Regions from separate parts of the Homo sapiens genome. Here all the other regions are linked to region 3. The links come from fine-mapping of genetic effects on gene expression. A gene starts in region 3. Each other region holds a variant in brackets. All regions are shown on one strand. Distances are from middle to middle.

Region 1 (10,992 bases), 24 kb after region 3:
GGAGGCCAAGGCAGGTGGCAGGTGGATCACCTGAGGTCAGGAGTTCAAGGTCAGCCTGACTAACATGGTGAAACCCCGTTGCTACTAAATACAAAAAAATTAGCCAGGCGTGGTGGCACATGCCTGTAATCTGAGCTGCTTGGGAGGCTGAGACAGGAAAAGAGCTTGTACTTGGGAGGCGGAGGTTGCAGTGAGCCGAGATTGCACCATTGCACTCCAGCCGGGACAACAAGAGCGAAACTCCGTCTAAAAAAGAAAAAAAAAAAAGCTCTAGTATGGGTGAATAGTACCTTAAAATCTACTATACCACTTAGTTGTTGTGCAGGTCTCAAATTATCTGGTCTCAAGCCCTTTATATCAAGGGGCAACAAACTACAGTAGATAGGTCAAGTACGTCCCACTACCTATTTCTGTTAATAGGTTTTATTGGAATATAGCCACACTCATTTGTGTGTGTTGTCTGTGGCGGCTATTTTTGCACTACGGTGGCAGAACTGAGTTGTTCTAACAGATCAGATGGCCTGCAAAGACCCAAGGTATTTACTATCTGGTCCTTTGTAGAAAGGGGTTTGCCAACTCCTACTTTATACTTAAAAATGAAGAATCACAGAGCTCTTTTATCTGGCTAATGTTGGTAGATCAAATTTCTAAAACTAATTTTTACTTGAAAGTATAAATGTAGCACTGGCAATAAATACTGTCAATTTTCCTTGAAATGGCAACATTGCTTGTGAGTTGTCTGTCAATGTTGACTGTATTAATAGATTTTGTAAAAATGGTAATTCAAGAATAAACCCAATGCATTAGCATAAATTTTTTTTTTTTTTTTTTTTTTTTTTTTGAGACGAAGTCTCACTCTTTCACCAGGCTGGAGTGCAGTGGTGCGATCTCAGCTCACTGCAACCTCTGCCTCCCGGGTTCAAGTGATTCTCCTGCCTCAGCCTCCCAAGTAGCTGGGACTATAGATGCACGCCACCACACCTAGCTAATTTTTGTATTTTTAGTAGAGACGGGGCTTCACCATGTTGGCCAGGATGGTCTCGATCTCTTGAACTCATGATCCGCCCGCCTCAGCCTCCCAAAGTGCTGGGACTACAGGCATGAGCCACCGCGCCCGGCCTAGCATAAACAATAAGGAGTAACAGAAACAAAAATTTGAGATGGCATTGTTGCACATTTTTGCAAATCTTGACCAGCTTGATAGAAGACAGTCTCATATCTGCTTTTGTATTCAATGTGTCCTAGTAAGTTTTGGTTAAAGCATATGAAGAAAATCTGGCCTCAGAGGTATGTAGTTGGAAAAGGAAGATTTTAATAGTCTTTTCAGATACTTGTATGTTCTTTGATACTACACACAATCTTGACAAGAGGTGATTTCTTAAGTTGCACTGTGGAATCTAACACCAAATCAACAAACGTTTCATACTGTTACATTATAATTCATTGGTCTATTTTGAACTATGAATGGACTTTGTAACTTCACACACCTGGAAAACTTGGAAAAAACTGACAGAGGTATGATCTTCCATATGTTGACCCTTTTCATTCTACAGTATTAAGATGCCACATTTCATTAATGTCACTGTCTCTTCAGAAAAGTTCTTACTTTAGTGAAGTTGTCAAGCTAATGGTAGCAGATACTAGTTTTGTAAAACTTTTTTCATGCTGGAAAGCCCAAATTTTATCACCACCAACAAATATGGTCACTTGTTTCCCTTGAAGTGTCAGGCTAATTTTATTCGTTTTTGCAAAAATGTTGAACACAAATCCAAGTTTGAATTACCAGCTTATCAGCTTTTCTTTCAAGTAAAAATGATATTTCATGAAAGTGTCCAGTTGTTTGGAATACAAATTATCACAAATGCTTTTCCTTGAGACAACTGCTGTACATTGGTATGCAGAAGAGGTTTGTGTAGTATTCCCCACTTTGTCACATGAAATATTGAAAAGATGTGTACTCAAAGGTTAGGATGTACCAGTGTATGAGATTAATCTCTTCAGGTTAATAAATTTTTATTGCATTGTCAGAGACACTAACTTTTTTTTTGAGATGGAGTCTCCGTTGCCCAGGCTGGAGTGCAATAGTGCAATCTCAGCTCACTGACCTCTGCCTCCCGGGTTCAAGCGATTCTCATGTCTCAGCTTCCCAAGTAGCTGGGATTACAGGCATGCGCCACCACACCTGGCCAATTTTTATATTTTTAGTATGGTTTCACCATGTTGGCTAGGCCGGTCTGGAACTCCTGACCTCAAGTGATCTACTCGCCTCCACCTCCCAAAGTGTTGGGATTACAGATGTAAGCTACTGCACTCAGCCATTTATTTATTCATTCATTTATTTATTTATTTAGAGACAGGATCTTGCTCTGTTGCCCAGGGTGAGTGCAGTGACGCCATATCACAGCTCACTACAGCATCAACCTCCCTGGCTCAAGTGATCCTCCTACCTCAGCCTCCCAAGTAGTGGGGACTACAGGTGCACCACCAAGCCCGAATGTTTTGTTTTTATTTTTTAGAGATGGGGGTCCCACAGTTTTGTCCAGGCTGGTCTCTAACACCTGGATGCAAGTGCTTCTCCCACCTTGGCTTCCCAAAGTGCTGATATTACAGGTGTAAGACACTATGCCCGGCCAAAAACCTCTTTTTTGAGACAGGGTTTTGCTCTTGTTGCCCAGGCTGGGGTGCAATGGCGCGATCTTGGCTCACCGCAACCTCGGCCTCCTGGGTTCAAGTGATTCTCCTGCCTCAGCCTCCTGAGTAGCTGTGATTACAGGCATGCGCCAGCACACCCGGCTAATTTTGTATCTTTAGTAGAGATGGGGTTTCCCCATATTGGTCAGGCTGGTCTCAACTCCCGACCACAGGTGATCTGGCCGCCTCAGCCTCTCAAAGTGCTGGGACTACAGGGGTGAGCCACTGCGCCCGGCCATGCTATAGATTTTTATAGGAAGTTAGTGTAGTGGGAAAAGCACGGAAAACTCGAAAGTCATTTTTTTTAAAAGCTTAAATAGAAATTACACTATTGGATATTCTGTCATAATGTCGAAAATGTCAATTTTCTCCAAATTAACCTCTGACTTCAATATAATTACATTTAGTATTACAGCAGGCCTTGGTGGGAGATTGCAAAAACATCCTAAAATATATTCATGTGGAAATACTGAATTTCAAAGAATTCTAGAAACACTGCTAAGAGGGAATTCAACAAATAAATTGCACCCTAAGCCATAGTAGTGAATAATAGATGCAGTAACAGGAAGATCAGAATAGATAGCTCAGAAGCTATCTCACCTACTATGGAAATTAGGTACTTGATTTTTTAAAAAGTGGCTTCAAAAATTACTGGGGAAAGGATAGGTAAGCAGGTAGTGCTGACCAAACTACACTTCGGAGAGAAAAGTGGATTTGGCTCTTTACCTCACCCTATACAGAAAAATTGCTTAAGAGTAAAGCATTTTTTACTTTTTTTTTTTTTTTTTTTTTTTTTTACGTTTTTTACTATAAGCATGAGGGCAATGGGGAGTATCTTGGGACTAGGGAAGTTCGTATTAAGACTTCTTAAAATGCAAACCATAAGGTGAAAAATTTATGGATTTTATCACTTCGTAATCATTATGAGATCAGATCAAGCAAGAACCATCAATGGATGCTAAATCTAGAGAGAATTTTTGACGAAGAGTAAGTACCTGCATAGCCTTAAGGTGCCTCACCACAGTGCATTTTGCAAGAGGAAAACTACCTCTAAGGTGGAGGAACAGCCAATGGAGAGAAAATTACTGTATCCATGTGAAACTTAAGTTGGTAGTCAACTCTAGTATGTGTAACAGAACATTCATAATCTTAGGAAATACACATGGAAGTATTTGTAATGTAACTTTCAAAAACAGTTGATAAAAAATAGGGCAATATTGTAAATGGAGTAAACATGTTAATAGGATTTTGTCATAAAAATTAAGGAAAATTTTACCAATCTTAAAAAGCTTAGTTGGCTAGGATAAAATATTTGCAACATTTAAACCAGAAATTATCTAGAATACAAGAAACTCCTGGAAATCAACCAGAGTAGCCCAGTGGAAAGGTGGGCAAGGATTGAACAGGGAATTTACAGAAGGGTAAACCAGATAGAATGGCTAATCATTTTGTGTAGATTGAGAACAATGCCAAGAGAGGAAAAACAAATAGAATGATAGCTTTTATGCAGTGTCATTTATATACAATTAAAATACATGCGTATCTTCAAAACAGTATTTCAAAATTGCAGCTGCAAAGATATCAGAGGAGGTGTTTATAATTAGGGAGAGGAATGGAAAGTAAAAGGACCCCAAAAATAGAATAAAAGTAGAGAGGGATGCTACACACACATGTCCATGAGCTCAAGAGTTGGATGAATTGAACTCACCAAAGGTCCCTAAGATAAGGGAGGAGAAAGTGACAGCTCCCACGCTCTTAATTTGGCTTAATCTCAATGTGTTCGAGTTTTCATTACAGCTCAGGGTACCAGCCCCCACCTGCTCACTTTCCTACTCATTTATGTTTAAACTTCCTGGCTTTCTCACCACACTTGAACCCTACTCCCGGCACACCTTTGGGCGTGTCAGGAACACGTTCATCACAAACATTTTTTGTGCCACAAAGGGACTTTCCCAGCTTTGGCCAAGAGTACAGGTGCCCATTCCTGAGAGTTTCAGCTTCACATTAAAAAAAAAAAAATGAGACATAATTAAGGGACCATAAAATTCACCCGCTTAAAATGTACAATTCAATAGTTTTTAGTATACTTAGTTGTGCACTCATCATAATCCTAGAATATTTTCATCCAAAAAAGAAAACCTGTACCCATTATTCAGCTTCATTTTTAATCGTGTATATCTCCCC[C/T]CAGGAGTGGTAATAAAACTTTCAGGCTGGTCACCTTCCAACGAGAAAAAACATGCAGCCTGGGGCTCCATGGGAACGGGTTATCACTTGGCAGGCCTGGGTAAACAAAAGGCTTGAGCCGGCCCTGCCAAGATGTCTTTTTCAATGTTTTTGAAAAGATAATAAATGTGCATGGCAGTGGTAAAAGTGCCTACTTAGGAGGCAACCCGTTTAGCAGTTTCTTGTGTGTCTTCTCGGAGAGATCCTCCTCAGAGGTTTTTTGTTTTATTTTGCTTTTGAGACAAGGTCTCTGTCGCCCAGGCTGGAGTGCAGTGGCGTGATCACTGCAGTCTCGACCTCCCGGGCTCAAGCGATCTTCCCGCCTCAGCCTCCCAAGTAGCTGGGACCACAGATGAGTCGCCATGCCCAGCTAATTTTTAAAATTTTTTTGTAGAGACGGGGGTCTCGAACTCCTTAGCTCAATCAATCCGCCCGCGTCAGCCTCCCGAAGTGTTGGGATTACAGGCGGGAGCCACCACACCCGGCATCGCGGAGGTTTCAGTCAGCATTATTTACGCCTCAGGAGAAGAGGAACCAAATTGGCTGCGGAGTAGGGTGTCGTTGAAAGGCCTAGGTCGGCCTACGGCGCGTGCCGCTGCCTCTTAGTTGAAGATCGACCCCAATAGCTTGCTGCTGTCCCTCTCTGGGTGACCGCACGCTGAGGGTGGGGCGTCACTAAACACTGATTACCCGTGCGCCTCGAAAACTGGAACCTAACTATGCATGGAGGGCGGGTCCTCTGGCGTCTGCACAGATGTCACTGGCCCAACTGGCACCCACCTGGGGGCCTAGCCAGAAATTGTTCCCAAGGCTGCATTGCTGAGTTTGCATGCAGACACCCAGTGAGTGTAAGCGTGTGCGTGCTGAGTGAGCACGTGTGTGCGCGTTATGTGCTCTGTGTTCACACATTGAGTGAGGATGTGTGTGCACGGTGTCTGAGAAACTGCACCCTACATCTACACACGCTTTGAGTGTGTATCTGCTACTGTGAGAAGATGCATTTACGCTGGGTGTGCACGTTGTGTGTGCATGTTGCATGTAAGCATCGTATGAAGAACTGTGTGCGTACGCACGCCTTCTGTGTGTGCACTGTGTACAGCAGCGTGTAAGGACGCGTGCACGCCCGTACGCGCTGTGTGAGGACTGTTGTGCACATTGCATGCACACGCTACAAGCGCGCGCCGCGTGAGAACCGGTGCGCCTATCGCACGTGCACGCCCTGCGTGCGCTGTGCGTGGAAGCGGTGCGCCTATCGCACGTGCACGCCTTGCGTGCGCTGTGCGTGGTAACCGGTGCGCTTATCGCACGTGCACGCCCTGCGCGCGTGCTGCGTGAGGACGCGTGCGCATGCGGACGCGCGCGGGTTCGGTGCGGCGCGGCGGGCTTGGCAGTGCGCCTGTGCGGCCGGCGCATCCCGATGGAGCGCGGCGGCGGCGGCTCCGGGACGGGATCCCGGCCTGAGGGGACTGCGCGGGGAACCTCTCTCCCAGGGAAGATCGCAGAACCGGGCGCGGTGCGGACCTCTCAGCCCAACTACCGGCCTCAAGGTATTATCCCCAGAGTGTGGCGGGCGCCCGAGGGCTTCGGGTTCCTGTGGGGGGGCGGGCCCGGCGGCCCAGGGCAAAGGTCCTCGAGCGTGGGGGGAAGGGGCACGGCGCAGAGCTGAGATAAACGCCCTTTCCCTGGCCCAGGATCGTCCGGACGTGCATCCAAGGGCCGCACCCCTCTCTGTGCGAGTGGCGGGGTTCTTTCTTGGGGCGACCTGGGTGAGTGGGTACACATGGGGGGTGGCTTAGGGTGGGCGGCAGGTGTGTTTGGGATGGAGGTGCCTGAGGGGGTGCTGCGGGTCCAGTCCCCGTCCTCGAGGAGCAGCCGGCATGGGGGTCGTTAGGATAAACCGAGCGGGGTTCTGGGGTTGCCCCGGCCTCCGCGCGCGCTCTCTCTGCGTTCTGGGAAACGCGCGCGAGCGCCGCTGCAGCCCGCGGCGAAGGTGGCCCAGCTTCGCGCCTCTTGGCGTTTCCAGGGGGCAAAATCGGCGTGTCACCCATTGGCAGAGGCAGATTCGCCCGGGCGGCCAGGCGTCTGCCCCGGACCGGGTGCTCCTCCCGCCCGGATGCGCTCCCTGTCTTGGGAACGCTGCTCAGGTGGCCGGGCCGCGGCCCTCAATCGAGGCAGCGGGGCAAACAAGGCTCTCAGCCCTCGAGGCTGCCGATGCTGGGAGCCATGGAGGGCTGGTCCCTGGCTGCCCAGAAGCCAGCGAGGCAGCGGAGGAGACTGTGAGGACATTTGGCAGGATTTTAGATAAGCAGGTCTGATGCTAACGTTCTGTAAAGTGGTTGCAGGTAGTGCGGGGGTGTAAGCAGCATGGAAACCGATTTCATGCTGTTTTTCCTGACAACAACTTTTTTATTTTTAGTTAATAAGGCAGGCTATTTTTAAAACATTTTTTATTGCAGTCTAATATGCATTTAAAAAACCACACAAAACTATAATTCGATGAATTATCACATAGTGAAGATGGGAGTATTTTATATACGATGGGCCAAGAAAAGGAAAGAAATCAAGAGAAATCTTCTTAAAACACGCTTTTTCACTGGGGTTGAGGGGGCGAGGTAGTATTTTCTGACTGGGCCTTCAGTTGCATCATTCTTAGGAGGAGGAGATAGCTTAAATCATTTCCAGTTTGTATTTTTCATTATGCTATTTTAAAGGCAGAATTCATTAACTGTCACAGGATAACGTTATAACTACCTTTGAAATGTGTGCTTTTGTTTTTATCCTTTTTGCTTGAAACACTCAAGCTGCATCTGCTAGGGAAGAACCTGGAAACTACCCACCAGAACGACCCTCCGTGGCAGAGGCGACCTTGTATAATAAAACACTGAAAAGGAGAGGTTGTTTCAGTTTGCATTTTTATTTGGTTGAGAGCTTAAATAATAGTTTGTTTCGATGTTCTGTTGTACTCATGAGAGGTGGGGAGGGGCGGTATGATTGGGTTTTCAGTGTATCTTGGATTTTATTTGAAGGAACTTAAGGGGTTTTTTTTTTTTTTTTTTTAATGGAAACAAAATTGGGGAAGGGGAGGAGGTACTTTTGCGGGGGAGATTCTTAATAAGTTCTGTTTGGAAACTATTGTAGAATCATTTAATGCACTCTTCTGATATTAAGATTAGCTTAAGGATATCTTCCTTCATTTGAAATTGGAAATATAGAAAAATATGTGTGAAGGTTTAAAATGTGAAATAAGCACCTATGTGCATTAAGGTTGGTATGGTAAAATTGGAATGTTTAATTTAGGTGCCAGGTGATACCACCATTTGTTGTTTGGGGGAGTTAGCAAGGCCAGGTACTTAAGTAAAGTCTCCTTAGAAAAATTATGATTTTGAGGTTTTATAATTATCTGTCCTGGATACTGATCATTCTTGGTTACCCAGGCCCTTAGCATTTGGGACCCATTCCTAATGAGACTTAACCTGCTTTTCTAGAGAGTCAACCATTGTTCCTAAGCTTGGGCTGGGTGCTGTCAAGGCTGCAAAATACAGAAAGACCTGAGATGTTTAGGCTGTCCAACAATTTTGTGTTGCACACTTAGGGGATATGAGTTGGCAAGTGGTTTTCCTGGGAGCTGTGTAAAAGACGGAAAGGAAATACCGCTGGTGGTTTCCTCTAGCAACAGGTTCTTCCGATATTGAAATCCTGTGCATGTTCCCATTACCCCCTAGTGATGCCTTCTTTCTTTCCTTTTAATTACCTCTGAATAGAAATTACCAGATCTACTGTCCATTTTAGTGCTTGTCTGATACACATAGTATAACAAATGAGCAAGTGCTTGTTTCAATCTGCTTAACAACCTTTAACCAGCAGATAGAATCACCAGATCTCAACCATATTTCCTTTCTTTCTTTTTAGATGAAGTCTCACTCTGTTGTCCATGCTGGAGTGCAGTGGCACAATCTTAGCTCACTGCAACTTCTGCGCCACCATGCCCAGGATCCCAGCACTTTGGGAGGCCGAGGCAGGTGGATCACTTGAGGTCAGGAGTTTGAGACCAGTCTGGCTAACATGGTGAAACCCTATCTCTACTAAAAATACGAACATTAGCCGGGCCTGGTGGCGCATGCTTGTAATCGTAGCTACTTGGGAGGCTGAGGCATAGGATCGCTTGAACCCAGGAAGCGGAGGTTGCAGTGAGCTGACCTCGCGCCACTGTACTCCAGCCTGGGTGACAGAGCGAGACTCCGTCTCGAAAGAAAAACAAAATAGGGTGGGGCCTGGAGATAGAGAGTAGGTGGTTATTGGAGACTGCGAAGGGTACTGGGGGGTGGGAAGGAGGTAGGAATGGTTAATGGGTATAAAAAAATAGAATGAATTAATAAGGCCTGGTATTTGATAGCACAACAGGGTAATTATAGTCAATAATAATTTAATTGTTCATTTAAAAATAACTACTAGTATGACTGGATTGTTTGTAACACAAAGGATAAATGCTTGAGGGGGATGGCTAACCTGTTTTGCATGATATGATTATTTCATATTGCATGCCTGTACCAAAACATCTCATGTACCCCAGAAATATATGCACCTACTACCTACTATGTAGCCACAAAAATTAAAAATTGTAAAATAAAAAAAAAAGTAGAGTGGGCCCGAGTAGCAAAGGCATTGGGTCCCCAAGAAATCGGAGTTCTTCATCCTTTTTCAAAGTTGTGTTTAAAACCATTCTTGAACGCTTTAATCCTAAAACTGTTCAGATCGCTGGGCGTGGTGGCTCACGCCTGTAATCCCAGCACTTTGGGAGGCCGAGGCGGGCGGATCACGAGGTCAGGAGTTCAAGACCAGGCCGGCCAAGATGGTGAAACCCTGTCTCTACTAAAAATACAAAAATTAGCCAGGTATGGTGGCAGGCACCTGTAATCCCAGCTACTCGGGAGGCTGAGGCAGGGAATTGCTTGAACCCGGGAGGCGGAGGTTGCAGTGAGCAGAGATTGAGCCACTGCACTCCACCCCGGGCGACAGAGTGAGACTCCGATCTTAAAAAAAAAAGTGTTCAGATCAAGAAGAACAAGAGAACAAGTTGAGTTTGTGCCTCTAGAGTCTCTTTGGTAGTAGGAAGGACCACAAACTTCCTACAAAGTTGTATTTGGTTTGTGGCTCCTGGCTTTTTTTACTGATGGCAGCATAGGACTTAGACTTAGCAGGACCTTCAGGACAAACTGCTGAAAGTCTTTGTGATTTCTCTTCTCATATCCTAGCCATGGTGACATAGCTGCTCAAAGTCTGTCATTTCTAACCTGCTTCCTCTCCAACATGAAAGGATGTTTTCCTCTCAGGTGCCCCATCTTCTGCAGTGGCTAGTGTTTTAAAAGAACACTTTGTCTTCTTGTAATTACATTGATTGCCTTACAAAACAGAAGGATTCACAAGGTTGATTTGGGCAGGCGAGAGATGGAGATTTCTGGGGGCTGTTGGTAAATATCCTGGTGGGTCTTGTTGAGAGGATTTGATGAGATATATTGGCTGGTGATACAATGATACTGCCTGGTTTTAGGGGGCTGTTCATGTGCTAAGTTGGCTCAGGCGGCAGTTCCAAGATTTGAAAACTTCCCATGGCCCTGCCCTCCGGTCCCTTTTGAAAGGAATTTCACCAGAAGAAGGAAGAGGGGGTAGTAGAGGGCAGCCGCCCTTAGGGAGGGAGTGTCCACTGTCCACCTCACATCTGAGTCGGCCGCATTTAAATATGGAGTTTACCGTCTTGGCATCTGAGGCTCTGGGTCTGACTAGGCCTTGGGATCCCGCCTCGTCTGCCTCTGAGGTCAGTCTGAATGCAAGCCCCCATCTGCTTTTCTGTTGGGAAGCATTTGTTTTCCTCTTGCCTAGGAACTTTTTCTGTTTTTAAAAGCCTTGTGACTAGCAGAGTTTGGGTTGTCATTTAAGCGAAAGGAAAACAGGTATGAGTGAGCCGCATGCATGCAAAGCATTTGAGGCAACAGCAGTGATGCCAAATGCCTGAGATCCTTGGAATGACAGGGTCTGTCCCCAGGGCTCCTAGCTTCTGACCAGTGCTGGGTTCGTTCACCA
Region 2 (10,992 bases), 220 kb after region 3:
TTACCAGAATGATAGTGGCTTCCCTAAAACTGCATTGGCTCTCCAGCTGCCTACAAAGTAGTCAGATTCCCAAGCAGTAGTAGAAAAGTACAGAACGGAAATTCTTCCTCATTCATCATGTACTTGTCATATTCCATTGTGGCACCCTAAGTCCCTTTTACTGTGTTTATTTTCTCTTGGATTCTGTGCTTGGGCTGGAAGATAAAGGGGTGGGAGGAATGTCTGTTACTACCTGGAATAAGGCTTGTCTTTAATCCACTAGCATTCAGAAGTACCCCCAGGAAGCATCCTCTGCTCACCATAGAAAGTTTTCAGAAACTCCTGAGAGTCTGATTATATACTAGATTGGAACAAAGAAGCTAGTAAGAATTAATGAAGTCACCTCTGGGAACATTGCCTCTGAAAAACTGTAAGTAATTGCGCATTTGGCCAGGAAGGCAAGGAATTCCAAGGCAGCGGAGATCTGAGGAGCATTCTCCAGCAGTCCTCAGGTGCTGTGGTGCTTACCAGAGCTCTGTCCAGGGATAGGAAAGGAAGAGAGAAGAGGGCATAATGACAGTGCAGAAAGGAAGTTAGAGACTGGGATTCGTGGTTTTGGGGGTTGAAAGAAACCTTGAAAGTCATGGAGTACGAAAATAGAACAGGAACCAAGATTAGCTGAATCAACAGAAATCTAGTATACACTTGCCAGGTCCCTTGAGCTGAAGTGTGCCAGGGTGCAAAGGAAGTGTTGCATAAGGGCATCATCACTTTCAAGCACTTAGGATCTGGAGGCTCCAGTTTCACTACCTACCTCTCTGCCTTCTCTGTCTTATTTGGTTTTCTCTTCCTCCATGCATTCTTTTAAAATGTAAGCATTTCCTAGTGTGATGTGATATTATTCTCTTTTTTCAGTCCTCCTTCTTGTCTTGATTGCCCTTACCTCCTCCCAAGATTTCAGCCATCACCTCTGTTGATGTCTTCAACCCTGACTACTCTCCAGACCTCCAGATTGTCAGCTGCCTCCCAGATGCCCTCACATGGATGTCCTAAAAGCACCTCAAATTTAGCATGTTTAAAATCAAACTTGCAGCTGGGTGCGGTGGCTCACGCCTGTAATCCCAGCGCTTTGGGAGGCCGAGGCAGGCGGATCACCTGAGCTCAGGAGTTCGAGACCAGCCTGGCCAACATGGTGAAACCCTATCTCTACAATCCCAGCTTCTCAGGAGGCTGAGGCATGAGATTTGCTTGAACCCAGGAGGTGGAGGTAGCAGTGAGACGAGATCACATCACAGGACTCCAGCCTGGGTGACAGAGTGAGATTCTGTCTCAAAAAAAAAAAAAATAAATAAATAAATAATCAAACTTGCATTGAAACATGCTACAGCATGAAAGACCCTTAAAAATATGATGCTAAGTGACAGAAGCCAGACACAAAAGACCACATATTGTATGATTCAGTTTATATGAAACGTCCAAAATGGGCAAATCTGTAGGGACATAAAGTAAATTAGTGGTTGCCAGTGACTCGGGGATGAGGGGAAAATTGAGAGCAGGTATGGGTTATTGCTAATGGGTATGGGATTTCTTTTTAGGGGAAGAAAAATATTCTAAAGCTGATTGTGGTGATTGATGGTTGCACAACTCTGTGAATATACTAAAAAGCTACTGAATTATACACTTGAAATGGGTGAACTGTATAGTCTATGGATTACATCTCAGTAAAGCTGTTAAAAATTATGTCAGACTTGCTGTCCTCCCCCAACCACTTGTTTTCCCTCAGGTCCCCTAGCTCTCAAAGCTAGACAAGCCAAGCTGGAAACGTGTCCTACTAATTCTCCCAGTTCTCTTTCCAACTTTAATGGTTTCAAGTCTTCTCATTTCCATCACTCATTCATTACTACATTTGTTTCATCCATTTTAATGGCTGCATATTATTCCACTCTGTGGATATATGAATTATTTCAGTGGTCTTCAACCTTTTTGCTCCATACTGTAAAGTTTTGAAAAGTTATCTACCTTCTTGCACATTGGTAGGTTATCTAATATTTTTATCGTAAATTATTGTATAGGATACAATTTCTGGCATATTATAAACACTGACAGTCTTAAAACTGTTGCATTATATTTTTAAATCTCTTTGGAGGAACCTACATACCACAGGAACTCGATAACTAATACCATCAATTTTTTTTAATACACAAATTCTTTTAACAGTGAGAAATTTTGCATTGTTCCTTTTTTTGCCTTGAATTTGGACTTCATTCCACTTTCTCCATATAATTTTTTTTTTTTGAGATGGAGTCTCTGTCACCCAGGCTGGAGTGCAGTGGCGCGATCTCGGCTTACTGCAACCTCCACCTCCTGGGTTCAAGCAATTCTCCTGCTTCAGCCTCCCAAGTAGCTGGTACAACAGGCGCATGCCACAATGCCCGGCTAAGTTTTTATATTTTTTGGTAGAGATGGGGTTTCACCATGTTGGCCAGGCTGGTCTTGAACCCCTGACCTCAAGTGATCTGCCCACCTCAGCCTCCCAAAGTGCTGGGATTACAGGCATGAGCCACTGCACCTGGCCCCTCCATAGAATTTTATCTTTAAAAGTATTTTGTTGATCACCAAATCTATTTGGTGCATAATGTTATTAGATTTCTGTGACTATTAAGTGTTAAATATTTCCTCTGGATTGAGTTAATATTACAGTTGAAGTATTGATGAAACAAAAGAAGTCTTACTGCAAATGCATTTTTTTAATTAGTTTATGTATTCATATATACTGTTGCTAGTAGAATAATATAGTATTCAAGTATTCTATTTTTTTTCTTTTTATAGATATAAGTGCTGAGAAACCCTATTTATATGATTACATAGATGGGAATGAAGGGACTTCTATTTATAGGAATGCCACTCAGTTCTCTGGACTCACTCTGAATTTTAGGCCAAACAAATCATGTACTAATCTATTATCAAAAAGTATTTTGAATGTTCTATCACTGATAGCTTGATTTTGTCCAGGTCTCGAACTCCTGACCTCAGGTGATTCGCCCACCTCAGCCTCCAAAGGGCTAGGATTACAGGTGTGAGCCACCATTCCCGGCCTATGGTTAACTTTTAAACATATTAATATTTAATCCATTTAGAATTTATTTTATTATTCATTTTATTATTTTTATTATTTATTTATTTATTCTGAGACGGAGTTTTGCTCTGTTGCCCAGGCTGGAGTGTAATGGCATGATCTCGGCTCACTGCAACCTCCACCTCCCAGATTCAAGTGATTCTCCTGCTTCAGCCTCCTGAGTAGCTGGGATTACAGGCACCCACTACCATGCCCAGCTAATTTTTTTGTTTTTAGTAGAGGTGGGATTTCACCATGTTGGCCAGGCTGGTCTCGAACTCCTGACCTCAGGTGATCTGCCTGTCTTGACCTCCCAAAGTTCTGGGATTTATTAGGCATGAGCTACCACGCCTGGCCAATTTTTTATTTTTTTGAGGTGGAGTCTCACTCTGGCGTCCAGGCTGGAGTGCAGTGGCATGACCTCAGCTCACTGCAGCCTCCGCCTCCCGAGTTCAAGCGATCCTCCTATCTCAGCCTCCCGAGTAGCTGGGACTACAGGCATGCGCCACCCTCCTGGCTAATTTTTGTATTTTTGGTGGAGACAGGGTTTCACCATGTTGGCCAGGCTGGTCTTGAACTCCTGACATCAAGTGATCTGCCTGCCTTGGCCTCTAGAATTTATTTTATTTTTATGATATAGTGTAAAGTCAGGATCTAACTTTTTTCCCCAATAAATAGTTTTTTAACACTGTTTATTGAAAATTTGTCCTTTCCCTGCTAATTGAAAATGCTGCTTTTACTATATTCTGCATTCTTATGTATCCCTGATCTGTTTTTGGAAGCTTTGGAGTCTTCTCGCTTGTTTCATTGCTTCTTGTGATATTCTAATTTAGTCTCTTTGATCACAGTCATTGTCCTGAAACACAGATCATATCATACCCCTCTTGCACAAACACCTTCCAAGTATTTTATTGCCTACAAGAAAAGAGACCAAACTTGTTAGCCAGGTCTAACCCTAAGCTATCTTACTAGCTGCATTTCCCCATAGACTCTCTGCTTTTTGGAGCATACTGTATTTTCATGTATTTGTACCTTTGTTCCTACTGTTCTCTTAGCTAGAAATAGCCTCCTGAGCCCCATTCTTTTCTTATTAAACCCTACTTTCCTTTTAGGACCCACTGTAAATCATATCAAAGCCCCCACTATAACTTGTGTTTCATTTAGTCTCTAATTATTGTCATTTGCCTTTGTATTTCCCCAAATAGATTATCAAATTCTTGAGGGTGCCTCGCTAAGCATTTTTTTTTTTTTTTTTTAGACAGGGTCTCACTCTGTCGCCCAGGCTGGAATGCAATGGTGTGATCACAGCTCACTGCAGCCTCCACCTCCCGGGCTTAAGTGATCCTCCCACCTCAGCCTCCCAAGTAGCTGGGACTACAGATGTGTGCCACCACATCCGGCTAATTTTTGTATTTTCTTGTAGGTACGGGGTCTCGCCATGTTGGCCAGGCTGGTCTCGAACTCCTGGGCTCAAGCGATCCACCCACCTCGGCCTCCCAAAGTGCTGGGACTACAGGTGTGAGCCACTGCACCTGGCCTCGTTAGTCTTTTATCTTACCTTATTACCTTTCATATAGTCAGTCTTCAGAAAATGCTTATTGAATGGAGTTGAATTTATTCATGCACACACACACACACATCCATCCATATGCTCTAAAATGTTAGTGAACAAAAGCCATTGTGTCAGGGGTCCCTAAGACCATCCCCAGGTTTTGCTAGGACTCAGACGACTTAGCATATAGTCTTTCTCATAAAAGAATAGAGAGCAAAATCAGCAAAAGGAAAAGGCATATAGGGCGAAGTCCAGAGGAAACCAGGTGCAAGTTTCCAAGGGTTCTCTCCCAGTGGAGTCTCACAGAACATACTTAATTTCCTCATCAATGAGTTGTGACAACACATGCGATACATTACCACCCTGGGAAGTTTGCTAGAGTCTCAGTACCAAGAGTTTCTACTGGGGGCTGATCATGTAGGCGTCCCCTGCCAAGCACATACCCAAATTCCAGACTGCCAGGAGGAAAGGGAGTGCTCAGCGTAAACCATCTTATTTACACAAACAGTTTCAGCACCCATCAGTTAATGGTGGGGACCCTCTTGAAATCTAAGTTCCCAGATGCTGGCCAAGGGCCATTTTGTAAGCAGGCCTTTCCAAGGACAGCAGTCAGATCTGCTGTGTTAACCCTTTTCTGTACAACCTTTTTTTTTTTTTTTTTTTTTTTGAGACGAAGTCTCACTCTGTCATCCAGGCTGGAGTGCAGTGGCGCCATCTCAGCTCACTGCAACCTCCGCCTCCCAGGCTCAAGCGATTCTCCTGTCTTAGCCTCCTGAGTAGCTGGGATTACAGGTATGCACCACTACACCCAGCTAATTTTTGTATTTTTGGTAGAAATACGGTTTCACCATGTTGTCCGGGCTGGTCTCAAACTCCTGGCCTCAAGTGATCCGCCCACCTCAGCCTCCCAAAGTGCTGGGATTACAGGTGTGAGCCACCACACCTGGCCAACGCAACCATATTTTTGTTTTGTTTTTGAATGGAGTTTCACTGTTATTGCCCAGGCTGGAGTGCAATGGCACGATCTCAGCTCACTGCAACCTCCGCCTCCCAGGTTCAAGTGATTCTCCTGCCTCAGCCTCCCAAGTAGCTGGGATTACAGACACCCACTATGACGCTCAGCTAATTTTTTT[G/TG]TATTTTTAGTAGAGGCGGGGTTTCACCATGTTGGCCAGGCTGGTTGCAAACAATCATATTTTTTAAGAGCTTAACTTCACAGATGGTTAATGCCTAAAGGGAAGAGAAAATCAATATGGTAGGAATGGTCAGGAGATACATGCTAAGTACTTCCATTGATACACTCTTCTTACAGGAGGTAGATTATAAGCTGAGGCCTGGAGAAGAGCAAGACATAGAAAGGGCTAAAGCCAAAGACCCATGTTTGGCAGGAGGATGTGAGGTTGGGGAGAAATGGAGGTGTGCAAATTATAGATGGCCCCAAAAGCTGGGCAGGAGGATATTTAGGGTTTGATGTGGTGGCACTAGAACATCTTCCTAGACTGAGGAGAAAGTGGTACTTTAGGATGGCTATGTAGTTAGCAGTGGGTGGGGAGGTTCTGGGGAGAAGAAATGAGGTGCAGGAAGACCAACAAGGGAACGTGTGGTGACCCAGATGACATGTTATGAAAACCTAGATAAGAAGTGCTCATATATCTAGTTCAGCATTCTGCTTAAAATGGGCTTTTATGGCCAGGTGCAGTGGCTCACACCTGTAATCCCAGCATTTTGGGAGGCTGTGGTGGGTGGATCACTTGAGGCCAGGATTCAAGACCAGCCTGGGCAACATGGTAAAACCTTGTCTCTACAAAAAATACAAAAATCAGCTGAGCGTGGTAGCATGTGCCTGTAGTCCCAGCTACTCAGAAGGCTGAGGCAGGAGAATTGCTTGAACCCAGGAGGCAGAGGTTGCAGTGAGCCAAGATCGCACCACTGCACTCCAGCCTGGGCAACGGAGACTCCATCTCAAAAAAAAAAAAAAAAAAAAAAAAAAAAGGCCGGGTTGGGGGGGCTTTTAAATCATTGGAAGGGTGGAGGGATCAAGTGGAGATAGGTTATGAAAGAAGCTATGTCAAGGGTGAATGTAACTCAAAATAATCACACATTTAACAAGATACTTCAACTGAATCTTATTTTAGAATTATTGTAGTTAGAATTTCCTTTTAAAGTTGTAAGTAGGTAACATTTTATTTGAAGATAAATTTATATGATTTTTATATTGTATAATGAGTAAAGAACTAGGATACAATGAAGTCTACCTCTATTTAAAGGAATGATGTTGACAAATATATACGTGCATGTATTTTGAAGATTTCATTAACCAAAATAGAAGAATAAGAATTTTCTATCAGCACTGTTTTTGTTTGGAATTAAACATTTCCATACTAATATAAATGCCAAAAAATAAATCAACTTTTACATTTCTTTCAGTTTTAATAGTGTAAGATCCTAGTGAAAGGTAAGGATATGTATATTAATAAATTTTTATTTTTTAATGTCCCTAAAAAATGTGCCATTTTACCATGTTTGCTCCGTTATTACTTGCATGGTCTTATGTCCAGTTTGTGGTTAGTAATTGAATATTGTGCATAGTATCACAGTATAGAATCCACGTTCATTATTCTCTAATCATAGTCTCATTGTTCTTGTAAATTCTTCTTCCTGTATTTATTGAAGCCTTACACCTTTTTATACTGTAGTCAACCATCCAAAAGTAAGAAGGCATTTCCCCCTCTAATAACTTTCTCTGCAGTTATCAGTCAGTTAAAAGAGCCCATGTAGTTTTAGAATTAGAGATATAGGGTGGAAAAGATAAAATACTAATTTGAGGTGTGCGTGTGTAGTGTCAGGCTCCGTACTTGAGAGCCAAAGGTTTAAGAGTCTTGATTTTATGCCAGGGATGCCTTCACTGAAACTCACCCAAATAGCAGAAGACTGTTTTCATCAATTTACTAATATCAATGTTATCTAGCACCACATGTTTTCTTTGTCCTATTGATTTATCATGCGATATTGCTTTGATGTGTTCTGTTGTTACTTTGCGCCTTTGGGGTTCCACATGCCTTCGTGGGAATCTCGGGGTGCAAGTAACACTGTATAAACGAAAATACTTTGAAAATTGCAGTGTAAACAAAACTAGCTCAGATGTTTGACACTTTGTTTGAAGTCTTTATTTCTCTTGTTTTCTCTCAATAGGAATATACAGATGTTGCCACAGGAATCTAATCTGAAATCGTACAAATGGAAATGACGCTACAGGAGGATGTTTGGGAGCATCTCTCTCTTTTTGTCAGGAGTTAGAAGTGACACTAAGGCACTAATACTGTAACTTCTTGATAAAATAACTTTATTTTTTAGTAGTGGAATGCTGCAACTTTTTTACACCTAACAATTGCTTTTAAATTACAGTATTCAATTTAAAAGTTGTATTAACTACAGTTTCCTTTGCAAAAAGTCTCAAAAGAATCACTTGAAGGGCATTATTTGTTGATGCATTTTTCTCTGAGCATGGTTTCATAGAGAGAACTTCACCAAGTAATATTCAGACGTTTATATGTTGAAAGTTTTGCTTACATAATAAAAACAAAAACAAGTGTCTGAATTGTATAGTGTCTTTACATGAAAGAACTTTAAACAGTGGCCTTATGGTAGAAAATTTTATACCAGATTTTTCTTTTTCTGATGACATTTTGGCTTATAACTCGAAGTTTTCTTAAGTTTCTGAAGATCAAGGCCTATATAATTCATACATTTCATATTATAAGAAGGCAAGAGACAAGGTGCTTCAAATATTCCATCAGGTAGTTGTGAGTGCACTGAATTTTTAGTAATATGTTCATTCAGTTTTTTTCCACAACTATTTGCTCTTTTCCAATTTCAAAATGCTATTGTGGAAAATATGTAAAGATTTTGTAATCTATAGTCCATCTTATTTTTCCCTCAGGGCAAGCTTGTGCATATCATATTTTTAAAGGCTTTTTAAAAATCTGACAAACAAAATCTCATATTTGAAAATTGTACTTTACTACTACAGCATTACACATTTTGCAAGCACATCTTATAGAGTGTTTACTTTTAGTTCAGTTGATATGTATTGCATACCTACTATGTGTAAGAGCAAATGGATGGGATTTTTAAATGAAATTTTTAGGCCCCAATACCTTATTTCTTTATGTTTTCTGTGTTCTGCTTAACAGTACATATACATTCCCAATTACATTTTTGTGAAATGTTTATTTGTAATAAAATAAAATGTTGTTGCTCTTTCTGCTTAAATAAGTTACTTGCCAGTTTGTGAGAGCATTATTTTAATTTTGTTTGAGACTTATAGCCTTGGATAGCACCTCTGTTTAAACAGTGTTTAAAGCACTGTTCTGTGCTTACAAAGACAGAGCTTTCAAAATTAAAATGTGAAGGTTGATAAGAACTTGGTTTTTCATGACTGGATGTGAAAAATCTTAGTACATTCAGTTTTCTTGTCCATATCTTTAAAAGAGAGGGCAGCCTTTTCCTTAAGTGAGTTCATGATAAGGGGGGCAAGTGCACTTGATTCATTGCTAAGCAGGTAATAAATTTGGGTAGATGGCCTGTCTTGTACTGTGTACAATCTCTATAGGTCAGGTTTTCCAAACATATTTAGCATTCCACTTATGGTAAGAAAGAAATGCATGCACACAGGTAGTATGGCAACTTTATATTGTGTTAGGTACTTATAAAATCTGTCTTAAATTTTAAAATAATTGATTTCATTTACTCCCATATTCTAGGGGACAGTAATGAGCTTTGAATATTTAATCATTTGATTGACAACTATGTATTGCACAGATACTGTACTAAAATTACAGCAATGAACAAGAAGACAAGACACATGGACCCTGCCTTTATGGTACGAAGAGTCTAATAGGAAAAATGGACATTAAACAGAAATATAACTTGGTAAATCGCCTTTATAGCTCGCTTTTTATTTATTGTAACACATAAAGGTAAGATGGCTGATTTACTATTATTCATTCCACAACTGATTCCCTATTTGGATATTCTTTTGGCACTGTCTCAATATGCAAAGCGTGTTATCTGCAAAATACCTGTGCAGAAAACATTGTGTGTATAAGATCTAAAGCCTAAAAGGAAAAACCAACTTTATAATTTAGAGTATAAAATAAGGACAGGGACCGTGTCTGTCTTGTCCACCATAGTATCCCCAGCACCCAGCTTCCTATTTGACGTGTGGTAAGAGTTCATTAAATATTAGTTGAATAATGAATGAATAAATAGGGAATAATAGAATATGTTTATTAGGAACTACATGTGTAATTTTCATATGGAGATTGAACAAAAGGTTATCCATAGCATTTTTTATTGACTGGAAAGAATTTGACTTCTTGAATGCATAAGACTTGAGAAGAGAAGTTTTTTTTTTTTTTCTTTTTTTTGATAAGTCCCCTACCATTGCCTCCTCACCTTCCTCCACTACGTGCTAGGCCCTTCGCTGGTACTGGGAAGACAAAGATAATAAGACACAGTCCCTGCTGTGAGGAAGCTCATGCACTGCTGAAGAAGAGATTCACAAAAACAAAGAATCACAATGTAGAGTAAGTACTTTAGTGGACATATATACAAAAGGTTGAGAGGAAAGTTGACATTTCTGATTCAGCATCCCCTCGTCATGTTTCTTTCCTATTGGTTTCACCAACCTCAGAAGGCACTATTCTGTTGGTGGTTTTACTGGTTTTAAAAATTGATGCATTGGGGGAAACTGGGTAAATTGTACGCGGGATCTCTCTGTATTATTTCTTTTATAGCTGCATGTGAATCTAGAGTTACTTCAACATAAATTTCAATTTGAAGAATTGCCCATAGTCTTATCACAGAGAACACTATTATAAATATTTTAGATGATACATTTTCATTTTTTTCTATTGGAAAAAAACTCGCTACATTTATGTGTAACAATTTATGTAGATGTATACTATGTACCACATTTTACCTAATAAATCCTACATTTTTGAATAGTTTTTTTTTTAAAAAAAAGACGGGGATACTTCCAGGCAGAAGCAAGAAAAGTAAAGCTGGATGAGAAACTCTTATTGTCTTTATTACCCAGCAAATTCAGTAACCACCAGGCACAAATTCACCAGGAACAACCAAGCAAGGAAGGAAGAAGAAGCTGATGCAACAAGGTGTGGTATGACTTCATCCCTCGCCCATCCCCAGAAGTAGCACTGAGTAAAACAATGGAGATGACAAAAATATTGGTAACAGTGGGCCCCAGTATGGACAAAGGCACTGACGAGGTGACCAGGCCACGTGGAGGAGAGTCAAGGAAAACTCTTGGGACAACGAAGTCTTTGCT
Region 3 (10,992 bases):
CCATAATTTCTAATCTTTTGGCTAATTTGTTAGTCCCACAAAGGCAGTCTAGTCCCCAGGCAAGAAGGGGATTCATTTTGGGAAAGGGCTGTTATCATTTTTGTTTTAAACTGTAAACTAAATTTCTCCTAAAGTTAGTCCAGCCTACACCCAGGAATGAACAAGGACAGCTTGGAGGTTAGAAACAAGATGGAGTTGGCCAGGCACGGTGGCTCACGCCTGTAATCCCAGCACTTTGGGAGGCCGAGGTGGGCGGATCACGAGGTCAGGAAATCATAGACCATCCTGGCTAACATGGTGAAACCTCGTCTCCACTAAAAATACAAAAAATTAGCCGGGCATGGTGGCGGGCACCTGTAGTCCCAGCTACTCAGGAGGCTGAGGCAGGAGAATGGCGTGAACCCGGGAGGCGGAGCTTGCAGTGAGCCGAGATCTCACCACTGCGCTCCAGCCTGGGCGACAGAGTGAGACTCCGTCTCAAAAAAAAAAAAAAAGAAACAAGATGGAGTTGGAGTTGGTTAGGTCAGATCTCATTGTCTCAGTTACAATTTTGCAATGGTGGTTTCGAAAACCATATAATTATGCAAACTGATACCACTGCAAATTTATATTTTCTAACCTCAGCTAAACCCTCAGTACCATTTGTCATTTGATCCGTCTCCTATTTCTTTAATAGTTTTATTGAGATATAGTTTACACGCCATACAGTTCACCATTTAAAGTGTACAATCTAGGCCGGGCATGGTGGCTCATGCCTGTAATCCCAGCACTTTGGGAGGCCGAGGCAGGTGGATCACCTGAGGTCAGGAGTTCAAGACCAGCCCGGCCAACATGGCGAAACCCCGTCTCTACTAAAAATACAAAAATTAGCCGGGCATGGTGGCAGGAGCCTATAATCCCACCTACTCATGAGGCTGACGCAGGAGAATCACTTGAATCTGGGAGGCAGAGGTTGCAGTGAGCTGAGATTACGCCATTGCACTCTAGCCTAGGAGACAAGAATGAAACTCTGTCTCAAAAAAAAAAGTGTACAATTTACTGTTTTGTTTTGTTTTTATTTTTTTTGAGACAGTGTCTCACTCTTGCCCAGCCTGGAATGCAGTGGCACGATCTCAGCTCATGGGTTCCAGTGATTCTCCCTCCTCAGCCTCCCAAGTAGCTGGGACTACAGGTGCACACCACCACGTACGGCTAATTTTTGTATTTTTTAGTAGAGACGGGGTTTCACCATATTGGCCAGGCTGGTCTCGAACTCCTGACCTTGTGATCCACCCGCCTCGGCCTCCCAGAGTGCTGGGATTACAGGTGTGAGCCACCGCACCCAGCAATTTAATGTCTTTTAGTATAGTACTTACAGAGTTGTGCAACCATTATTATAATGTAATTTTAGAACATTCTCACCATCCTAAAAAGAAACTTTATACCCTAGTCCAAGCCACAACTGTCTTTCGTTCGGACTGTTACAGTAGCCTCCCGTGTGGTTTCCATTTCCACCCTTGCCCCCTACAGTCTGTTCTTAACACAGAAACCAAAATGATCTATTTAAAAACCTACTGAAAGGCCGGGCGCAGTGGCTCATGCCTGTAATCCCAGCCCTTTGGGAGGCCAAAGCGGGTGGATCACTTGAGGTCAGCAGTTCGAGAACAGCCTGGCCAACATGGCGAAACCCCGTCTCTACTAAAAATACAAAAATTAGCCAGGCACGGTAGCGCACACCTGTAGTCCCAGCTACTAAGGGAGGCTGAGGCAGGTGAATCACTTGAACCTAGGGGGCGGAGGTTGCAGTGAGCCAAGATCGCGCCACTGCACTCCAGCCTGGGCAACAGAGCGAGACTCTGTCTCAAAAAAAAAAAAAAAAAAAAAAAAAAAAACCTACTGAAGATTCAAGTGATCTGGCCTCCTTACTTCTCCAATCTCATCTCTTCAAATTCTTCCCTTGGCTCAATGCATTCTAGCCACACTGACCTTTCTTTTCTTCCTTCCTTCCTTCTTTCCTTTCCTTCATTTATGTCCTTCCCTCCTTCCTCCTTTCCTTCTTTCTTTCATGGGGTCTCACTCTGTTGCCCAGGCTGAAATGCAGTGGCACGATCATAGCTCATTGCATCCTCAAACTCCTGGGCTCTAAGGATCCTCCTGCCTCAGCCTCCCAAGTAGCTGGGACTACAGATGTGAACTACCATGCCTGGCTTTTTTTACTGTCGTGTGTTTATTATTTTAGAGATGGGGGGGTGGGTCTCGCTATGTTGCCTGGGCTGGTCTCGAACTACTGGCCTCAAGCTCGATCTTCCCATCTCAGCCTCCTGAGTCACTGGGATTACAGGTGGAAGCCACTGCACCTGGCTTCTTGCTGTTTCCTGAATATACCAAGCATGCTTCCACTCAGGGCCTTTGCCCTTGCTGTTCTCTCTGCCTAGAACACATTTCCCCCAGATGTCCACCTGACTCACTTCCTTCCAAGTGATTAAGATGATCAGTCAGATGGGGGAACCATCCTACAGTAGAGAAATGAAGCCTGATATTTTTTTTTCCTCTTTGAGGTTTTATACTGGGTAATTGACAGAAACTTTTTATTTTTAAACATTTAGAGTTCCGGACTCTTAGAGTCTAACTACTTACCATGTACTAGGCACAATTGCTAATTGAATGCATTATATCAATTTAATTCCTGCAACAACCTAATGTAAGTACTATTCTTTTTTTTTTCTTTTTTTTTGTTCGTTTGTTTGTTGGAGATGGAGTTTCACTCTTGTTGCCCAGGCTGGAGTGCAGTGGCGCGATCTTGGCTCACTGCAACCTCCGCCTCCTGGGTTCAAGTGATTCTCCTGCCTCAGTCTCCCAAGTGGCTGGGACTATAGGCGCCTGCCACCATACCCGGCTAATTTTTGAATTTTTGAGTAGAGATGGGGTTTCACCATTTTGGCCAGGCTGGTCTCGAACTCCTGACCTCAGGTGATTCGCCCACTTCGGCCTCCCAAAGTGCTGGGATTATAGGTGTGAGCCACTGCGCCTGGCCGGTTAGTACTATTCCTACATCCAATTTACAGATGAGAAAACGGAAGCTTGTAAAGAGATTAAAACTTGCCCAAGAAAATAGAGTAATAAGTTACTGCAGAGCTTGAATTTGAACCCAGGCCTCTCTAACTCCAAAGCTCAAGTTCATAATTATTTGACCTTGGAGCAAAATTTAAATAAATTTCATAAAAAATCCTTTCATCCTCAATTATGTAAATTGAAAAATATTGCAGATAGAAAGAGAAACCCAGAACTTTGAGTCCCCCATTATCTTTCAATTTCACTCTAAGAAGTGCATCTGTCATTGGGTTTCTCAATATCAGCTCTGCTGATGTTTTGGGCTGGATAATTGTTTGCTTGTATGGGGGAGGGGAGATTGTACTGTGCACTGTAGGATGTTTAGCCGCATCCCTGGCCTCTGCCCACTAGATGCCAGCATCACTGCCCCCCTCCTCAAGTTATGACAACCAGAAACATTTCTGGTTGACGCTGCCAAATGTTCACAGAAAAGAACCACTATATTAGATGATGATACTTTATTTCTGTCTTCTAAGTATGTGCAAACCCTGGTGTTTGTGGAAAGGTGATTTATTTAAAATAAGTTTACTTGGTTTAGTCAAAATAAGTTTACTTAGAAATAAATCTTGTAGAGTACAGCCCAGCATTAGCCAGCTGTATTAGTTTGCTAGGACTGTCATAACAAAGTACCACGTACTGAGTGGCTTAAACAACAGAAATTTATTTTCTCATTGTTCTGGAGACTGAAAGTCTAAAATCAAGCGTCAACAGGGTTGGCCTCTCTCCTGGGCTTATAGATGGCTACCTTCTTGTTCACGTGGTGTTCTCCCTCTATGCCTGTGGCCTAATAATATCTTCTTGTAAGGACACCAGTCAGATAAGGGTCCACACTAATGACCTCATTTCAATTTAATCACGTCTTTGAAGAACTTATGTCCAAATACAGTCACATTGAGTTACTGGGGATTAGAACGTGAACATACGAATTTTGGGGGGGACACAATTCAGCCCATTAACATTGAGCTTAAGTCTTTTCTCCCCTCCCTCCCTTCCTTTCTGTGTGTATTGAACACCTATTATGTGCCAGACATTCAGCTAAGTGGGGGTAATGGTAAGCAACAAACATGGTCTCTGCCCGGTAAGGTTTACAGTGAGGTAGGACAGACAGACTTAAAGAGTAATAACAAGTGCCATGCAAATATTATGCTTTGGTAATGGATGCCAGGAAAGCCTTGCCCTTCCCATCAGGCTCCCAACCCGGCTGGGCGAGTGAAAGGACTGCGTTATGAGCTAACCGGCTGGGCACGGTGGCTGACGCCTGTAATCCCAGCACTTTGGGAGGCCGAGGTGGGCGCGAGTTGAGGTCACGAGTTCGAGACCAGCCTGGCCAACATGGTGAAACCCCGTCTCAACTAAAAGTACTAAAATTACCTGGGCATGGTGGCACATGCCTGTAATCCCAGCTACTCGGGAGGCTGAGGCAGGAGAATCGCTTGAGCCCGGGAGGCGGAGGTTGTAGTGAGCCGTGATCGCGCCACTGCACTCCAGCCTGGGCGATAGAGCAAGACTCCATCTTAATAAAAAAATTAAAATATTGGCCGGGCGCGGTGGCTCACGCCTGTAATCCCAGCACTTTGGGAGGCCGAGACGGATGGATCACGTGGTCAGGAGTTCAAGACCAGCCTAGCCAAGATGCTGAAACCCCGTCTCTACTAAAAACACAAAAATTAGACGGGCGTGGCGGCACGTGCCTGTAATCCCGGCTACTCCGGAGGCCGAGGCAGGAGAATCGCTTGAACCCGGGCGGCAGAGGTTGCAGTGAGCCGAGATCGCGCCACTGCACTCCAGCCTGGGCGACTCTAGAGCAAGACTCCGTCTCAAAAAATAAAATAAAAATAAAAATATACATATTTTTTAAAAACTGAGCTAACCACGAGGTTAACGAGTCAGCCACTTGTGAAACCGGGAGACGCGCGTTTGCTACAAAGCAGCAGAGGTCTGGTCTTAACCAGCAGCAAGCGCCACCTCAACCCGCCCTTTTCTATGACGCAGAGTCTCTCCCCCTCCCTCCCTGACTCCGCCTTTTCCCTGCTTGAGGCCCTGCCCCTCGCGTCCTCTCTGGCTTGCTGCGCACCCTCCCACAACGCGTCTCCCTCGGCTCTAACAATAGGAGTCAGTCGGCCACGCCTGCGTCATAAAGCCTGGGGGCGGGCCCAGCCGGCGACGGGAGGCGGGGAAAAGCGACGCAAAGAGTCGCGGCGCCATTTGCTGCCGCCGAGCGTGGACGCAGGCGGATCTCTGAAGAGCTGGGTCGCCAGCCTCTCCCGCGCACGTTGCCTGGCCTCCAGCACCTACTTGGTCCCGCGCGCTCCCTCGTGTCGCCCCTCGGAGCAGCAGCCGCCGCGGTCGCCGCTACCCGGAAAGAAGTCAGAGACGCCGCGAGGTCGCCGCCACCGCCATGCCCAAGAATAAAGGTAATGCCGCCCGGACCCCCGGACCACGGCTCTGCTCGGCCGGGTCTCCCAGGTCCTGCCCGTAGATTGCAGGTCACCCAGGCCGCAGTGACCCTTTTTCCTTCCCGCCCTGCCTGCCCGCGGCTGGGCGCCCCACACGCGACTCTGAGCTCGGGAGAGGAGCTGGGAAGTTAACTCCTGTTGCCCAGTTTGGTCACATTGGGGTGGAGCCGGCGCCATTTTTGTAGGGCCTCCTGCGGGAGAATGTGGGCTTTTGCTCCTGATTCGCGCCAGACTGACCGCTGCTCGGTGGGGACGGTGGCGGGAACCTTCCCCGGGGCGGCCTAGGTTTAGTAGATAGGCCCCTTTGGCCTTCCCGGGCATGAGGGGTTATAATCCCTGGAAGCCGTTCTGAACTTTCAGAGTGCTGTCTGCATTCGTGAGCACCAGGTACTCCTGCATGGGTTTCTTTATGGACAGTTCAGTATTGTTGAGGCTACTCGCTGTCCCTTGTGAACAGTGGGTGAAACCTTGATACATTTCTAAGGCTCACCTCTAGAGATTTACTCTCTCCATCCCTTTACAGGATATAGCTTATGTTTGTTTGCTGAAGACTTATTCCATATTGAGCCAAGTTTTCTACTTTTGCTTCAGATGATGCATATGTTGTGAGAATAAAGACCTAATTTAAGTGTCCTCCATTCTGAGGCTAAGCGTTCACAAATGATCAGACTTGAGGATAACTTTATTTGGGATTTCCAAAACGGAAGGCCTAATCTTAAAAAAAAAAAAACAAAAACAAAAAACAGAACACTCCTAAAGAAATTACTTTTATAGATTTACAGTGTTCCTGTCATTTTTAATAGCCGTATAACTTGAAGAAAATTGTGCAAGTAAATATAGGGAAAATACTGTATTTTCCTACAGGAGAGGAGCATACTTCATAGTCCGTAAGTAGTCTCCTTTGATTATTCATTCTAGAGGAAACCCTCCCCTGACACAGGCCTACTTCTGCTCTCTTTTCTACTTGACAGCTGGCTCCAGGGATTCTACCACATTTCCTCTTTGTAGCTGTCACTTATTACTTTATCCCTTAGGGTACTTGGTCGAGGTGTTCTGTGCACAAGTTGGTGCAGTCACTGCTCATTATTTTGGAAAAGATGGAGTTATAAACAAAAAATTTTAAAGTCTTACAGTTTTCTTCTGTATAATCCTTTATTCTCTCTGAGGTGGTAAGGGGATCACTTCCATCTTATTCTCACCTTTATTTCTAGTAATAAGATTTCCAATTCTTCCACCAGGCTGTAAGCTCTACAAGGCAGGAATAGTATCTGTCTTAATCTCATTGGATTGCCAGCACTTGACAATTAGTAGATGCTTAATAAATATTTGTTGGTTTAAGTCACCTACCTCCTGTCGACTCCACCCTTAGTGAATAATAGGTTCTGCTTTGGTTCCAAGGGGATAGGACTTCTACACTAAATCACATCTAGTTCCCTAGCCTCATGTCTTAAGAAAGAGCCTCTCTGGGAATTTCTCCAAAACAACTCTGGTTTAAAGAATGTTGATGTCACTTTAATTGTTGTACACTCAGACCTAGTCTCATTCATTCAACAGAGAATTTAAAGAACATCCCATTACATGGCAATAAAATACAAAGGGGAGTGATCCGGGTATGGTTAATTCTGGTAAATTGACAAGTAATTAGTCTTTTCTTAAATAACATTTGAGGCATACAAAAAATACAGCTAACATGATATACCTGGGAACCCATTACTCTGAATTTAAGAATTACAGCGCAGATTGAGGTAAAGCCCTAATCACCTTTTACTCTCTTTTTGGAGGTAATCACCAGGCTGAGTTTGGTGTTTATCATTCCTGTACTGTCTGAAACCAATCAGTTCTTAGTTATCTTACTTAGAGGAATGGTACTTTTCATGACCTAATTTAAGTGTCCTCCATTTTTTTTTGCTGCTTCCAAGCTCTTCCCATGAGTCTCTTAGGGTCATTACCACTTACAGCCTTTTTCCTGCCTTTTGGAAATGGCTGCCAATGTGGTTTCCTTTCTGGAATGGGAGCAAAATGCTGTGGAGAGGTAAGCTTATGTGGGGGCTAGGGGCAAAAAAAACATTGTGACTTTGGTCACCCCAGCTTACTGACTGTAATCAGTGAACTGATTTACTCACTGAAGCTAAGCGACTTACTTAACTTCTCTGAGCTTCAGGGAACTCATGGGTAAACTGGGAATAAATGAATGTTATGACCTCATGGGGTGATTGTGACAAGTAAATGGGCAGAATTATTGCATAGTGGTTAAGAGCATGGTCACTGGGGTCATATAATAGAAACAGGGATGTTGAGTAGGGACCAGCATTATAAAAGAAAGTAAATTGGGTACCGAACAGATCTTCTTTATTTTTTAAGAGACAGTGTCTCGCTATGTTGCCCAGGCTAGCCTGGAACCTCCTGGGCTTGCTCAAGTGATCCTCCCACCTGAGCCTCCTGAGTAGCTGAGACCCTAGGCGCACACCACTGCACCCAGTGAGATTTCAATATTTATGGTACTCTGCTACCAAAAGTTTGAAAACCACAGTTCTCTGTCCAGACACTGTCTTCACTTAATTTTGAAAGTATCGGGTTCCTTGCATAGGGCCTGGCTTTAGAAGACACCCAAGATTTCCGCTTAGAAGAATATGTATAGAATTGCATTTTTATTTCAAAAGGATGGGTGCTAAAGTGAAATGTTTTTCTATATTTTTTAACATAATATCTGCTATTTATGTGTATTTTATGTCAGAAAAATCCCCAAAGGAAATTCCAAGAAGGGTAGGGAGGTGATAATGTGTTAATGTTGGGATTGGAGATTGTAAATTTAATATGATTGTGTAGCTAAAATAGATGAATTTTTTAATTTAAGTGATCTTTTAAAAAATGGTTTTATAAGCCTTAATTTCATTTTATTTCATACTGTTTTACAGATAATTAATGTCATTTACCTCCTTTTCTTTTTTTTAAACCATCAGGTAAAGGAGGTAAAAACAGACGCAGGGGTAAGAATGAGAATGAATCTGAAAAAAGAGAACTGGTATTCAAAGAGGATGGTCAGGGTAAGTGTTTTCATAAATTACGCTTTTTAAAATAACATCCTTTCTTTTTTAGCTGGGGACTTTATTTTTTTGAGACAGCGTCTTGCCCATCGCCCAGGGTGAAGTGTGGTGGCACGATTACAGCCCACTGCAGCCATGACCTCCTGGGCTGAAGCAGTCCTTCCACTTCAGCCTCCCGAGTATTTGGGACTACAGGCACACACCACCACGTCTGGCTAATTTTAAAAATTTTTTTAGGCTGGGCGCAGTGGCTCACGTCTGTAATCCCAGCACTTTGGGAGGCCAAGGCGGGCGGATCACGAGGTCAGGAGTTCGAGACCAGCCTGACCAACATGATGAAACCCCGTCTCTACTAAAATTACAAAAATTAGCTGGGTGTGGTGGCACGTGCCTGTAATCCCAGCTACTCAGGAGGCTGAGGCAGGAGAATTGTTTGAACCTGGGAGGCGGAGGTTGCAGTGAGCCGAGATCACACCACTGCACTCCAGCCTGGGTGACAGAGGGAGACTCTGTCTCAAAAAAAAAAAAAAAAAAAAAAAAAAAACTGTATAGAGATGAGGTCTTCATATGTTGCCCTGGCTATTCTCGAACTCCTGGGCTCAAGTGATTCTCCCACCATGACCTCCCAAAGTACTGGGAACTAAGAATGTGTCGTATAGTTCAGAGGGAATTGAGCTATGGTTGACAGTTCTGTGATTTAGTTGGCAGTTCTATGATTAGCATTTCTGGTAGTGAATGGTACATATAATATGTTGAGTAGACCATGGACATTTGAAGGATGAGCCTGAGGCCCTTATAGACCTCTCCATTCTCCAGTGCCATTAGCATATAACTTCGTAAACTACAATAAAATGAAACTGAACAGTTAACTGATTTTATTAGACTGAAGAATATTGTAAGTGCCAGACCAAGATACATAGCACTAGTCAAATAAATCCTAACTGGATCGTTTGCCCTTTCCTGTTACTTTTATTTCGAGTCATTTCAAACCTACAGAAAGTTGCAGTATTAGTGCAACAAACTCCCTTAAATCCTTCATCTGTACACACACATATAAAGAAATATATATGTGGGATTTTTTAATTTTTTTTTTGAGATGGAGTCTCGCTCTGTCGCCCAGGCTGGAGTGCAGTGGCGCGATCTCGGCTCACTACAAGCTCCACCTCCCGGGTTCACGCCATTCTCCTGCCTCAGCCTCCCAAGTAGCTGGGACTACAGGCACCCGCCACCATGCCTGGGTATTTTTTTTGTATTTTTAGTAGAGACGGGGTTTCACTGTGTTAGCCAGGATGGGTCTCGATCTCCTAACCTCGTGATCCACCCGTCTCGGCCTCCGAAAGTGCTGGGATTACAGGCGTGAGCCACCGCACCTAGCCCCATATGTAGGATTTCTTCAGGACCATTTGAAATTTAGAGACATCATGTTACTTTTCCCTTACTTGATCATGTATCTTCTAAGTGCAAGTATATTTTCTTATATAACTAGAAGAGAATTATCACACTCAGGTAATTTGACATTGATATAATATCTAGTATATACTCCATATTTCCTCAGGTATTCCAATTATTTCCAGTACTTTAGCTTTTAATAGAACTTTGGGTGGATTTATTACGCCATACATATAAACCAGTAAACATGAGATACGTTTTCTGGCTAAAAGTCCTTTGGTTTCTTAGCCTTGGTCATCCTTGCCTCTAAAATAGCAGCTGACTTGACTTGGGCATACACTGTTTTATTATTACTTTTTCCCTCACTTCAGAAGAAAGGCTGCCTTTGAGTTGACCAACCATGTTGAGGTGGTAGATGGGTGCTAAACTCACTGTAGTCTGAGTAATTGACTTCCACAAGTCATCCCCACTGTTGAGCCTTTCAAAATGAAGTCTCAGTATATTTACAAATTAATGGACATCCTCTCTGGGGATTAGTCATATTCTAATTCAACAAAGACATTGTTTGAAGTTTGTTTTTGTTTGCTAAATGAACTAAAAATTATGAGATTTGCACCTAAAGGTACTGAGGTAAAGGAGAGCCAAAAGTGGGGTAGTCAATCTACTTATTCAGAATGAGTCGATAATTTAAACATGTCTAATAGCAGAGACAGTATATTATAGAAATGGCATTACATTCTCTGAGATCTGCTTTTACTGAAGTGGATCAATGATGAAACTAGCCAAATCTGAGCATCAGAAGGCTTTCCGGTCTACCTGATGCATGATCTCTACAGTTCTGAGAAGCAGAACTATAAAACAATGTAAAACAATAAGGGCATATGTCTGGTGTGTGTGTGGGGGGTGTGTGTGTGTGTGCACGCACACGTGTTTATAAAGGTAGCAGTTGTAGGAATGAATGAGATTGGGGGTGAGGGGGTGCATATGTATGTCTATGAAAGCCTAATCATTTC

The links.
Region 1: its variant is fine-mapped to the expression of EIF1AX in nasal epithelium (TOPMed, PIP above 0.99).
Region 2: its variant is fine-mapped to the expression of EIF1AX in coronary artery (GTEx, PIP 0.93).

The regions. Positions count from the first base shown.
Region 1 is chrX:20,112,219-20,123,210 of GRCh38, reverse strand. It overlaps MAP7D2 (MAP7 domain containing 2), which reads left to right and starts at 6,304. Exons shown (of 17, transcript NM_001168465.2): 1 at 6,304-6,461. The coding sequence starts at 6,332. The variant C/T (reference allele first, on the strand shown) is at 4,876.
Region 2 is chrX:19,914,178-19,925,169 of GRCh38, reverse strand. BCLAF3 (BCLAF1 and THRAP3 family member 3) reads left to right here. Exons shown (of 12, transcript NM_001367774.2): 12 at 7,836-10,992. The coding sequence ends at 7,865. It overlaps LOC124905256 (a long non-coding RNA gene), which reads left to right. Exons shown (of 2, transcript XR_007068407.1): 2 at 263-1,385. Among named protein-coding and RNA genes, the nearest start is that of SH3KBP1, 32 kb to the right of the region's middle. The variant G/TG (reference allele first, on the strand shown) is at 5,780.
Region 3 is chrX:20,136,137-20,147,128 of GRCh38, reverse strand. It overlaps EIF1AX (eukaryotic translation initiation factor 1A X-linked), which reads left to right and starts at 5,291. Exons shown (of 7, transcript NM_001412.4): 1 at 5,291-5,504; 2 at 8,507-8,590. The coding sequence starts at 5,489. EIF1AX-AS1 (EIF1AX antisense RNA 1) reads right to left here and starts at 7,161. Exons shown (of 2, transcript NR_046592.2): 1 at 6,894-7,161; 2 at 6,685-6,794. It also overlaps SCARNA9L. RefSeq lists enhancers at 5,180-5,229, 5,290-5,559, 5,890-6,049.